Homo sapiens: one gene and its partner. The protein of the gene in region 2 purifies or fractionates together with the protein of the main gene of each other region. This does not show direct contact. Each region holds a gene or a part of one and is shown on either strand. Other genes may lie near its edges.

What was found. Proteins that work in one complex are often made in the same cells at the same time.
Region 1: the proteins of LRFN3 (region 2) and TNFSF8 purify together in Homo sapiens (co-immunoprecipitation; one large-scale study listed by IntAct). This does not show direct contact.

The regions. Positions count from the first base shown.
Region 1 is NC_000009.12:114,919,497-114,924,122, reverse strand, and holds part of TNFSF8 (tumor necrosis factor ligand superfamily member 8), read left to right. Parts: intron 1-4,626.
Region 2 is NC_000019.10:35,938,201-35,943,779, reverse strand, and holds part of LRFN3 (leucine-rich repeat and fibronectin type-III domain-containing protein 3 precursor), read right to left. Parts: intron 4,371-5,579; 5' UTR 4,355-4,370; coding exon 2,940-4,354; intron 1-2,939. UniProt on the Homo sapiens protein: Cell adhesion molecule that mediates homophilic cell-cell adhesion in a Ca(2+)-independent manner. Promotes neurite outgrowth in hippocampal neurons.

The DNA.
Region 1 (4,626 bases), on a different chromosome or scaffold from region 2:
TGCCCTTTGGTGTTTGTTTTAAATAACATTGACCTTTTTTTAAAGGGTCCAGGCCAATTCTGTTGTAGAAATCCATTCATAGCCTGGATTTGTCTTAGTATTAACTCATGGTTATACTCAGATGAAACATTTTTAGTAAGAATAGTATATAGGTAATTCTATATACGTCTTATTGTAGCACAGCTAGAGACATATGTCAGGTTGTCCCATTTTTTTTGACTATAGGTTTAGTCACTTGATTAAAGCGGTGACCACCAACTATCGCCTTTGTAAAACATTTTTTCTTTCTCATTAACAAGTAATCTGGCCAGGAGCAGTGGCTCATGCCTGTAATCCCAACACTTTGGGAGGCAAAGGTGTGTGGATCACTTGAGGCCAGGATTTCAAGACCAGGCTGGCCAACATGGCGAAATCCTGTCTCTACAAAAAATACTAAAATTAGCCGGATGTGGTGGCACACACCTGTAGTCCCAGCTACTAGGGAGGCTGAGGCAGGAGAATCTCTTGAACCCAGGAGGCCAAGGTTGCAGTGAACAGAGATGGCACCACTGCACTCCAGCCTGAGTGACAGAGTGAGATTTCATCTCAAAAAAAAAAAAAGAAAGAAAGAAAGAAAGAAAGAAAGAAAGAAAGAAAGAAAGAAAAAGAAAGAAAAGTAATCTATGTATGGGATAATACTCTGAAGACATAAATACTCTTCACTTGGTGGTTTTGCCATTTCTTAATGATCCTTGTCTGAATCAGCTAATGCACTGAGGGTTGAAAAAGAGGGAATGCCTAAGTCTGTCACTCCTTCCAAATTTATTAGCTGTCATTCTTCTGTAGAGAAGAGCTCCCCATTGGAAAGATGGTGGCAGGAGGAGGAGGAGCAGGATATTCCAGGTGAGGCAAAAGAGAAAGCAGTGGCACAGCCCATAAGAAGGCAAGCCCAGGTGTGAGGAGAGGAATGGTAGGGCCAGAAGTCAGTCCAGATTGTACAGAGGAGAAGAAACGGAACTAGATGATAAAAAGATTTGATAGAAGAGACGGAGAGGACAGGATATCACTGCCATCTTCAAACTAGAAAGATTTCCTAAGCCCATATCTGAGCCCAAATCTATACTCAGCCTCCTACAGCCATCTCTCAAGACCTCAGGTGTTCTGATTGCCTACTGAGTAGTGTATTTAAGACTTTGCTACTCAAGGTGTGGTCCATGGCCTGGCAACATTGGCATCACCTGGATGCTCATCAAAAATGCAAAACCTAAGGGCCCCTCCCTACTGAGTCAGAATCTGCTTTTACCAAAATCCCCCGATGCTGGTCAGTCTTTTAAAGTGGGAGAAGCACTGCTTTAAGCCACTGTGGTCCACTTCTCACTTTGGCAGACCATGTGCTCCCAGTAAAAATAGTCTTCCCCTGAGGATTTTCTATGACTTCTATTCACTTTTCCATGAAATTTCAGGAGATTTTTCTGCTCAGCTTTATCCTGCCCTCATCTAGAGAGGCAATGTAGCAGGACATTGAAGAGCAGTGCCTTCAAAGTCAAACACCTAAGTTTGAATCCCTTCTGTGCTATTCGCCACCTGTGGGACCTTCTATAAACATTATCACATTATGAAATCACTTCTCTAAGTCTTGATGAATCCGTAACTCTTGGGGTCAAGTTAAAGGCCAAATGAAATAGTGCATGTAGAGTAACCCTCATTAAGTGCCCAATGAATTAGCTTGAAAATAAGAGGTATCCTTGGCAAAAGTCCCTTTGGGCCATGAGCCAGAGCCCACCTTACAAGACTATGTGAGGGCAACAAGGAAAGGAATGTGGACTTCCCCTGGCATATTCCAAACAGAGCTGCCTTTGATCATTTTTGGTCCACGGGGGCATTTTGTGTCCAAAGCAAATTCAGGAGCTCATTGCATCTGCTGATCATTCCTCTGTGAAAAGAAACAAGCCTTTCAAGGTATTGAGGCAAATTAAGCACATCATTAACACCAAGGCAGTGCTCAAAATAGCTATGCTTTTCAAATACTTGCTAACACTTTATAATATCTTATGATGTCCACAATAACCCAGTGGAAAGATGGATGATTAGCCATCTAACCACTGATTAAAGGAGAAGAAAACACTCCAAGGCAAGGAAGATGGTTGGGATGGGGGTCATTTTACCTGGAGACAAACAGGTTAAACATGACCATTCCTCCCTCCATACATGAAAATAACTTTATTACTGTTGGGAATACTCATCAGACATCTACAGAGGCCAAAAACAGAGGAAGTACACTTAAGGAAGTATACCTCGTTGATAACCACGGAGACAAAGTTTCCTGAGCTACTCAGTGGAGCTGAGAATGAAAACCTGGGAGAGTCCATTTGTTTGTGCCTGCATTCAGCCTAGGCACTACCTTACACAAAGCCAAGTCATTGAGCAAGATAGTTCACATTTCCTGAGCTAGGACCCAGATCCCCAGACAAGATTAGGGAGAGAATTCTAGGACTGGGGGACATCTTGCCAAAGAGGAGTTGGTGAACAACACTTAGTGTAATACCTGTTTATGAACAGTCTTCACTGAATTTCAACAGCCATCATCTCCTTAGACATTGCTTCTCCACCTCCAAATGCAGGGACTGCTTATGGGAGAGGGGAGGAGGGAGGAATGAGCTCTTCTATCCTTTGTTTCTGGAAACAGCATCTCTCCTAGGGCAGTGGAAAGTACACCAGAGAATTTCAGTCCAAGATCTGCCTCTGACTCATGAGTGCCTTGGTTTCCTCCTCCATAAAATTAGCTTGATGGACTGAAAGATGTCTCAATCTCCCTCTGGCTTTGATTGTCTAATCTTGACTACCATGGGTAGCTAGGAGAAGCTGTAAAGACCTCATCCCAAGAGCTCTTCAAAATAGGAATAGTCACGCTTCTGTCATGGACTTCCTGGGCCCTGGGTGAAGGTTTAAATGACAGGTTTCTTTCCTGTTTGAGATGCTCTGCTTTTGACATCCCATGTCTGAAATTAGGAAACCAGAATGCATTCAAGTGACAGAGAGAAAAGAGGCTTTCCTTGACCCCCATATAAATTAGGTCCTCCTCTCTGATATTACTTCTCACAGCTGTGCTATTCAAAGTGTTCTGTGGGCCAGGAGTGTCAGTATTACTCGAAAGCTGCCAGAAATACAGAATGTTGGCCAGGTGCGGTGGCTCACGCTTGTAATCCCAGCACTTTGGGAGGCCCAGGCGGGCAGATCACAAGAGGTCAGGAGTTCAAGACCAGCCTGGTCAACATGGCGAAATCCCGTCTCTACTAAAAATACAAAAATTAGCCGGGGGTGGTGGTGGGCCCCTGTAGTCCCAGCTACTGGGGAGGCTGAGGTAGAGGAATTGCTCGAATCCAGGAGATGGAGGCTACAGTGAGCCGAGATTGCGCCACTGCACTCCAGCCTGGGTGACAGAGTGAGGCTCCATCTCAAAAAGAAAAAAATGCAGAATGTTAAACTCCCCCCAAATCTGCAGAATCAGAATTTGCATTTTAACGAGACTCCCAGGTGATTCATATGCACATTGAAGTTCTAACAGCACTACCTTAAAGCACTATGATTCTTTTCCTCCATAGCTCTTGCCACAACCTGCAATTCTAATTACACATTTATTTATATTTTTTAAATGGCTGCCTTAATGACTAAAGCATAAAATCCATAGGATGTCTTTTAGTGACTAACGTAGTTCCTACCACAGACCAGGTGCTCATTCAAGGTGTGCTGCATGAATGATTCTCTAGGACTTCCCGAACTGCTAGCAGCCTCTGCAATGATGGCTGTACCAGGTTTGCTATTCTAGCCTCTCTCACTGTCCCTGTATATGTCCCTGGGCAGCTTGATGAATTTGATGATTGTGGTAAGACATTTCAATGCAGATATTTTTCTTAGTGCATTTGCACATCATGCTAATCAATGGTCACGCTTGGCAGTAAGTTGTAAGTTGTTTATTAAATTTTAAAATGTTGTGTGTTGTCTCACAAGGGCAACATAAAGGGGAATTTTGTGATATCAAGTTTTCCTGCAAACTGCATGCATAACTGAAAGACTACAAAAACTTAGCTTTGTTAGGTTAAAAGCTTTCAACTAAGGCAACAAAGTCGTAGACTGTTACAGTAGGAAGGGCCTTCCAGGACAAGTTTGCCTCCCTTCCCCTGAGAAGGTAGGGCCCAAATGTTTAAGCTGACTTCCCCCATCTCCAGATTGGTGCTGTGCCAGGGCTTTGCCTTCAGGAGACCTCCTTGACTCACTACCAACCTCTTGCACTAGAGAAGAGATCCATTCATAAGAAAACAAGCTTTCAGCGGAAGGCAAATGACAGACCTCCCAGGGAAATGTTACAATAATAGGGGAACTCCAGATGGTCCTAGTGTTCATACAGAACACTAAGAAAATAAGCTGTGGGCGGCTGCTAATTTCTTGCTTTGGTAGAGGTTAGGAAGTTGGTTTTTTCGCATACACACGCTCACACCTCTCTAGGTCTTTACTAATATTTTAATTCAATGCAATACAGGAGATTCCAACCTGGGCAGGTCAAAAGATGAATAAAATACTTCATTCCTTATTGGCAGAATATTGTATGGGTGTCTCCATGGCTGGAGAGAAAGGGGAGGGACAATCAGG
Region 2 (5,579 bases):
TTCACTCTGGTCCCACTGCCAGTCATCTCTCCAGTTCACCACCCAATTCTGCTCTAACCCTGTCCAATTTCCATCTAATTTAATCCTTTTGTCTTCTAGCCACCCCCATCCAATTTCCCCCACATTTTACCTCCCAGTCTCCTCCAGACGCTTGCCAATTTCCCTCTGGTTCCCCTATTTCCTGCAGCCTATGCCAAATTTCCCTTTTCCAGCTGCCTGATTTTCCTCTAGTGTACAGCTAGGATTCTCTCCAATCAAACCACCTGATCTCCCTGTACCCCTGTTGCCCGATTTCCTTGTAACCTGCCAATAAATGTCCCCCTAGCCCTATTGCCTTATTATGATGACTGTATTGATAGCCTGTTTTCCAATGAGTCCTGTCGTCTGATTCCCTTTTCATTAAACTAATGTGCCTCCGTCACTACTGCTTTCTTTTTCTCCCTGTTGCCTTATTTCTTTCCGGCTCTGTCACCTGCTTCTCTTTTATCTCTGTTGGCTGGTTTCTATTTATCTTTTTCTTTCTTGTTTCCTTTTAATCCTTACCACCCAATTTCACTATAGTTTCTTTTGTAGTTGGGCACCCTGTTGGAGAGTTGACTTATCACCTGTTTTATTCCTAGGCTATTCTAATGAGAGAGGTACAGGGAACTCCGTGGCCGCCTGGGGCAGGGTGACTGTCTAGGACAGCATTCATCCCATTCCCCACCTGGCAAGGTGGCCAGGACTTGTGTGACTTTTTTTTTTTTTTTTTGAGACGGAGTCTCACTCTGTCACCCAGGCTGGAGTGCAGTGGCACAGCCTCGGCTCACTGCAACCTCCGCCTCCCAGGTTCAAGCAATTCTCCTGCCTCAGCCTCCTGAGTAGCTGGGACTACAGGCGCGTGCCACCACACTCAGCTAATTTTTTGTATTTTTAGTAGAGACGAGGTTTCACCGTGTTAGCCAGGATGGTCTCAAACTCCTGACCTGGTGATCCACCTGCCTCGGCCTCCCAAAGTGCTGGGATTATAGGGGTTAAGCCACCGCGCCTGGCCGACTTGTGTGATTTTCAGGGGCAGGACTTCCGTGCAATCTTCCGAGTCATGTCTGAGAAAGGGAGTAGAATGAGCTCAGTGGGTTGCCAGGACTGAAATGGAAATCAAGTGGCCTTTTCTTGAGGTGTTGGCCCCAAGGGAGGGAAAGGACATCCAGGTACTACTAGGTCCCCAAGGAACAGTCCTCAACCCTGGGGAGGTCCAGTCTTTACAGTCAGCCTTGGGGCTGCACCCTTGGCCCAGCCTGGCCGTGAGGACAGGGACTCACCCACAGCCGCAGTCCATCCATGCAAGGTTGGACTTTGGTAAGAGGTGTCAACAGCACCTAGGTCAGCAGCCACCACTGCTGACCACATGCGGTCACTGCAGATGTGCTGAGTGCTCTCCAGCTTGGGGGAACAAGTTGGACTGAGCCACCTCTTGGAGTGTGTAAACCCCAGGTTCTGTGTTTGCAACAACAGGAGAGAGAAGAGAATCCCCCACAAGTGTGGCAAACTGGATATTTCTGTTTACCTGGCAAAAGGAACTTGAACTAGGTTTGATTTGATTTAGAAAATAAAAAATCTGTCGGGCGCGGTGGCTCAGGCCTGTAATCCTAGCACTTTGGGAGGCCGAGGCGGGTGGATCACGATGTCAGGAGATCGAGACCATCCTGGCTAACATGGTGAAACCCCATCTCTACTAGAAATACAAAAAATTAGCCGGGCATGGTGACGGGCGCCTGTAGTCCCAGCTACTCGGGAGGCTGAGGCAGGAGAATGGCATGAACCTGGGAGGCGGAGCTTGCAGTGAGTCAAGATTGTGCCACTGCACTCCAGCCTGGGCAACAGAGTGAGACTCCGTCTCAAAAAAAAAAAGAAAAGAAAAAATCTACACTGGGTGTGGTGGTTCACGCCTGTAATCCCAGCACTTTGGGAGGCTGAGGCAGGTGGATCACCTGAGGTCAGGACTTCTAGACCAGCCTGGCCAACATGGCAAAACCCCGTCTCCACTAAAAATAAAATGCAAACATTAGCTGGGCGTGCTGGTGCACGTCTGTAATCCCAGCTACTCGAGAGGCTGAGGCACAAGAATCGCTTGAACCCGGGAAGTGGAGGTTGTAGTGAGCCGAGATTGCACCACTGCACTCCAGCCTGGGCGACAAAGTGAGACCCTGTCTCAAAAAAAAAAAAATCTGGATGTCACTATATTAGAACTTGAAACATGGAATAGTTCACACCACACACACCGAAGCCCAGTCTCTATCGAACCTCCTCCCTGCAATTTCCTTCTAACCTCTGGTCTGATTTCTTTTTCTAACAGAGCTGCTTATTTCATTGTTTCTGGGCTCCCTGTGCTTTCCTGTTTGATCTCCTTTTCTTCCTGCAGCCCAGCTAGTATCTAGTCCTGTCATCTGGAAAACCTGGTGTTTCTCTCTTTATCTTTACAACTTAAATTTATTTTTATCCCCTTATCTTCCCCACCCACCCTTGCCCATTAACATTTTATTCTTCTGCCCTGATTACTTTCTCCTCCCGCTGCCTGGTTTCCTTTTTATGTTTGCTACTACTATTTATTCTTGCTGCCTAATTTCTTTTTACTCATGCAGCCTGATTTCGTTTATCCTTATTGCTTGATCTTTTTTAGCCCTGTAGCCTGATATATTTTAACATTTGCTGTCTCATTTACTTCGTCCTTCTTGTCTGACTTCTTTTTATCACTGCTGTCAGATTTCATTGACCCTTTCTGCCAGAGTCTTGTTATCCTTGCTGCCTGATTTCTTTTACTTTTGCTCTCTGATTTCTTTTGGAACCTTCCAGCATCACTTATCAGTTGTGCTTCGGTGTAGGGTATTAGTAGGTGTACCCTCAACCCTCCCCTTGCCTCACTCCCCCACCCAAGCTACCCCAGTGCCTGGACCCTGCACCTGTAGACGAGGATGTCATCAGCCGAGCTGTTGTACTGGATCTGGTACATGCGGATGCCCGGGATAGGCCGCTGATCCGGCCACTGGACAAGAGCAGCTGTGGCCCCGTGCTCAGTCACCTGGACGCCACGGTCGGTAGGGGGCCCAGTGTCGGCCACCTTGGCAGAAGCAGAGGCAGCGGAGGGTGGGGTGAGAGCATCAGGATCCCCGTCCCGCGGGGGGTCACAGCTGGTGCTGTTGGCTAGCTGAGGAGGTGGTGGGGGACCCACAGTCAGCTCCACAGCAGCTGTGGCCTCGCCAGCTGCATTGGCCGCAATGCAGGTGAAGATGCCACCATCACCCGGCTCGGTGACCAGCAGCTCCAGCGTCCCATTGGGGAAGGCGCGGGCACGGCTTGAGTTGCCTAGCAGCCGGCCCTGGGGTGACACCCAACGCACACGGGGCTCTGGGTCCCCCACTGCCCGGCAGCGCAGGGCAGCCGGCCGACCTGCGGGCACAGCCAGAGGTGGTGAGCGGTGAGTCACCACGGGCGGCTCGCAGACAAACTCCTCCTCGCCCACCGCCCAGAAGTAGCGGCCGCCCAGAGCAGGTGGGGACGCGCAGGCCTCGAGGTCGTCCTCCCGCGCCAGGCGACGCAGCCACACCAGCTCGCAGTTGCAGTGCAGGGGGTTCCCGCCAAAGGCCAGCACCAGGGCAGAGGCGGGCGAGCCCCGGGGCCTGGCGAGCAGGGGCAGGCGGGAGAAGAGTGGGTCGGGTGGGATTGTGGTCAGGCGGTTGGAGGTCATGTCCAGCCGGGCCAGCTTGTGCAGGCGGGAAAAAGCGCCGGCGGGCACAGAAGCCAGCAGGTTGTGGTCGAGGCCCAACGTGTTGACGTTGCCCAGGCGGCCCAGGGCCTCCCAGGGCAGCTGCTCGAGGTTGTTGTAGGAGAGGTCGAGGTCCTCCAGTGTCTCGGCACAATCATCCAGGGCGCCGGCCGCCAGCGCTGCCAGCTGGTTGTTGCTGAGGATGAGGTGGCGCAAGTTGACCAGGCCGCGCAGCTGGCCCTCGCCCAGTGAGGTCAGCCGGTTGCCATCCAGGTGCAGGGCACGCAGGGCCCGCAGGTCGGCGAAGGCGCCGGCAGCCACGTGGCGGATGGTGTTCCGCGACAGGCTCAGATGCAGCAGGCCTGTCATGTTGGCCAGGTCGCGGCGGCGCACGGAGGCGATGAAGTTGTCTGCCAGCCGCAGCTCGGCTGCCCGGCGGTCCAGCGAGGGTGGCACGAACAGGAGGCCTGCCCCTGGGCACAGCACGCTTAGGGGCAGCGACTGTGTCTGGCAGCGGCAGCGGCGGGGACATGGGCTGGGTGTGGCTGACTGGGGTGGGGATGAGGCAGGGGCCAGCGGCAGCAGGCACAGGAGCAACGGGAGGATGGCCATCGCGGGCAGGGGTGTCCTGCGGAGAAGAGGGGAGGCGTGAGGGCAGAAGAGGGGTTCTGCAGGGGCTGGGGGTGGTCTGAGACCAGGAGAGAAGGTCACAGTGGGCTGAGGGCAGAAGGGCTGGTCAAAGACCGTCAGATGTGACCAAAAGCCAGAGGAAGGCCAGGCGCGGTGGCTCACACATGTAATCCCAGCATTTGGGGAGGCTGAGGCAGGAGGATGGCTTGAGGCCAGGAGTTCAAGACCAGCCTGGGCAACAAAGTGAGACCGTGTATCTATTATACAAAAATTTTTAAAAATTAGCTAGGCATGGTGGCGCCCACCTGTGGTCCTAGCTACATGGGACACTGAGGTGGGAGGATCAATTTGAGCCCAAGAATTTGAGGCTGCAGTGAGCTATGATTGCGCCACCACACTCCAGCCTGGGCAACAGAGCGTGACTCTGTCTCTCCAAAAGAAAAAAGTAAAGAAATGGTCAGAGAAATGACAGCTGGTCTGGGTGAGTGGCAGGAAAACCAGAGGGCTTTAGACGTGGTCAGAGATGGTAAAAGCTGGCCATGGGGAGACGGGGCAGCCAGGGTGGCAACAATGATCAGAAGTGGTCAGATATGACCAGAGAAGAGAAGGGGTTACAGATGGTCAGGAAGATGAGCAGTGGACAAAGAGAAGGGAGGGCATGGGTTGGGCTCAGATCTGGGGGAGATGACCATGTCAGAGACACGTGGTCAGAAACGGCCCAAAGCCAGCAAGGTGGTCAGAGAGGAGGAAAAGGACAGACATGGCAGAGTCAGTGGGAGCCCAGGACAGCTGCTCAGGAGGATGGTGCGGGGAGAGGTCATCGGAGAGAGGAAAGGCAGCAGAGATGTTCGAGATGATCAGAGGGCATCAGCAAGTGAGAGAGGAGAGGTGGCCAGAGATTATCAGAGGGCATCAGTGAGTGAGAGAGAGAGAAGAGGTGGCCAGAGATGATCAGAGGGCATCAGCGAGCGAGAGAAAAGAGGTGGGCAGAGATGATCAAGAGGGCATCAGTGAGTGAGAAAGAGAGAAGAGGTGGCCAGAGATGATCAAGAGGGCATCAATGAGTGAGAGAGAGAGAAGAGGTGGCCAGAGATGATCAGAGGGCATCAGTGAGTGAGAGAGAGAGGAGAGGTGGCCAGAGATGGTCAGACAGTTGCAGACTGGGAGTTAGGGTCAGGGGTGGGAGGAGGGCAAGAGCAGTGGGAGA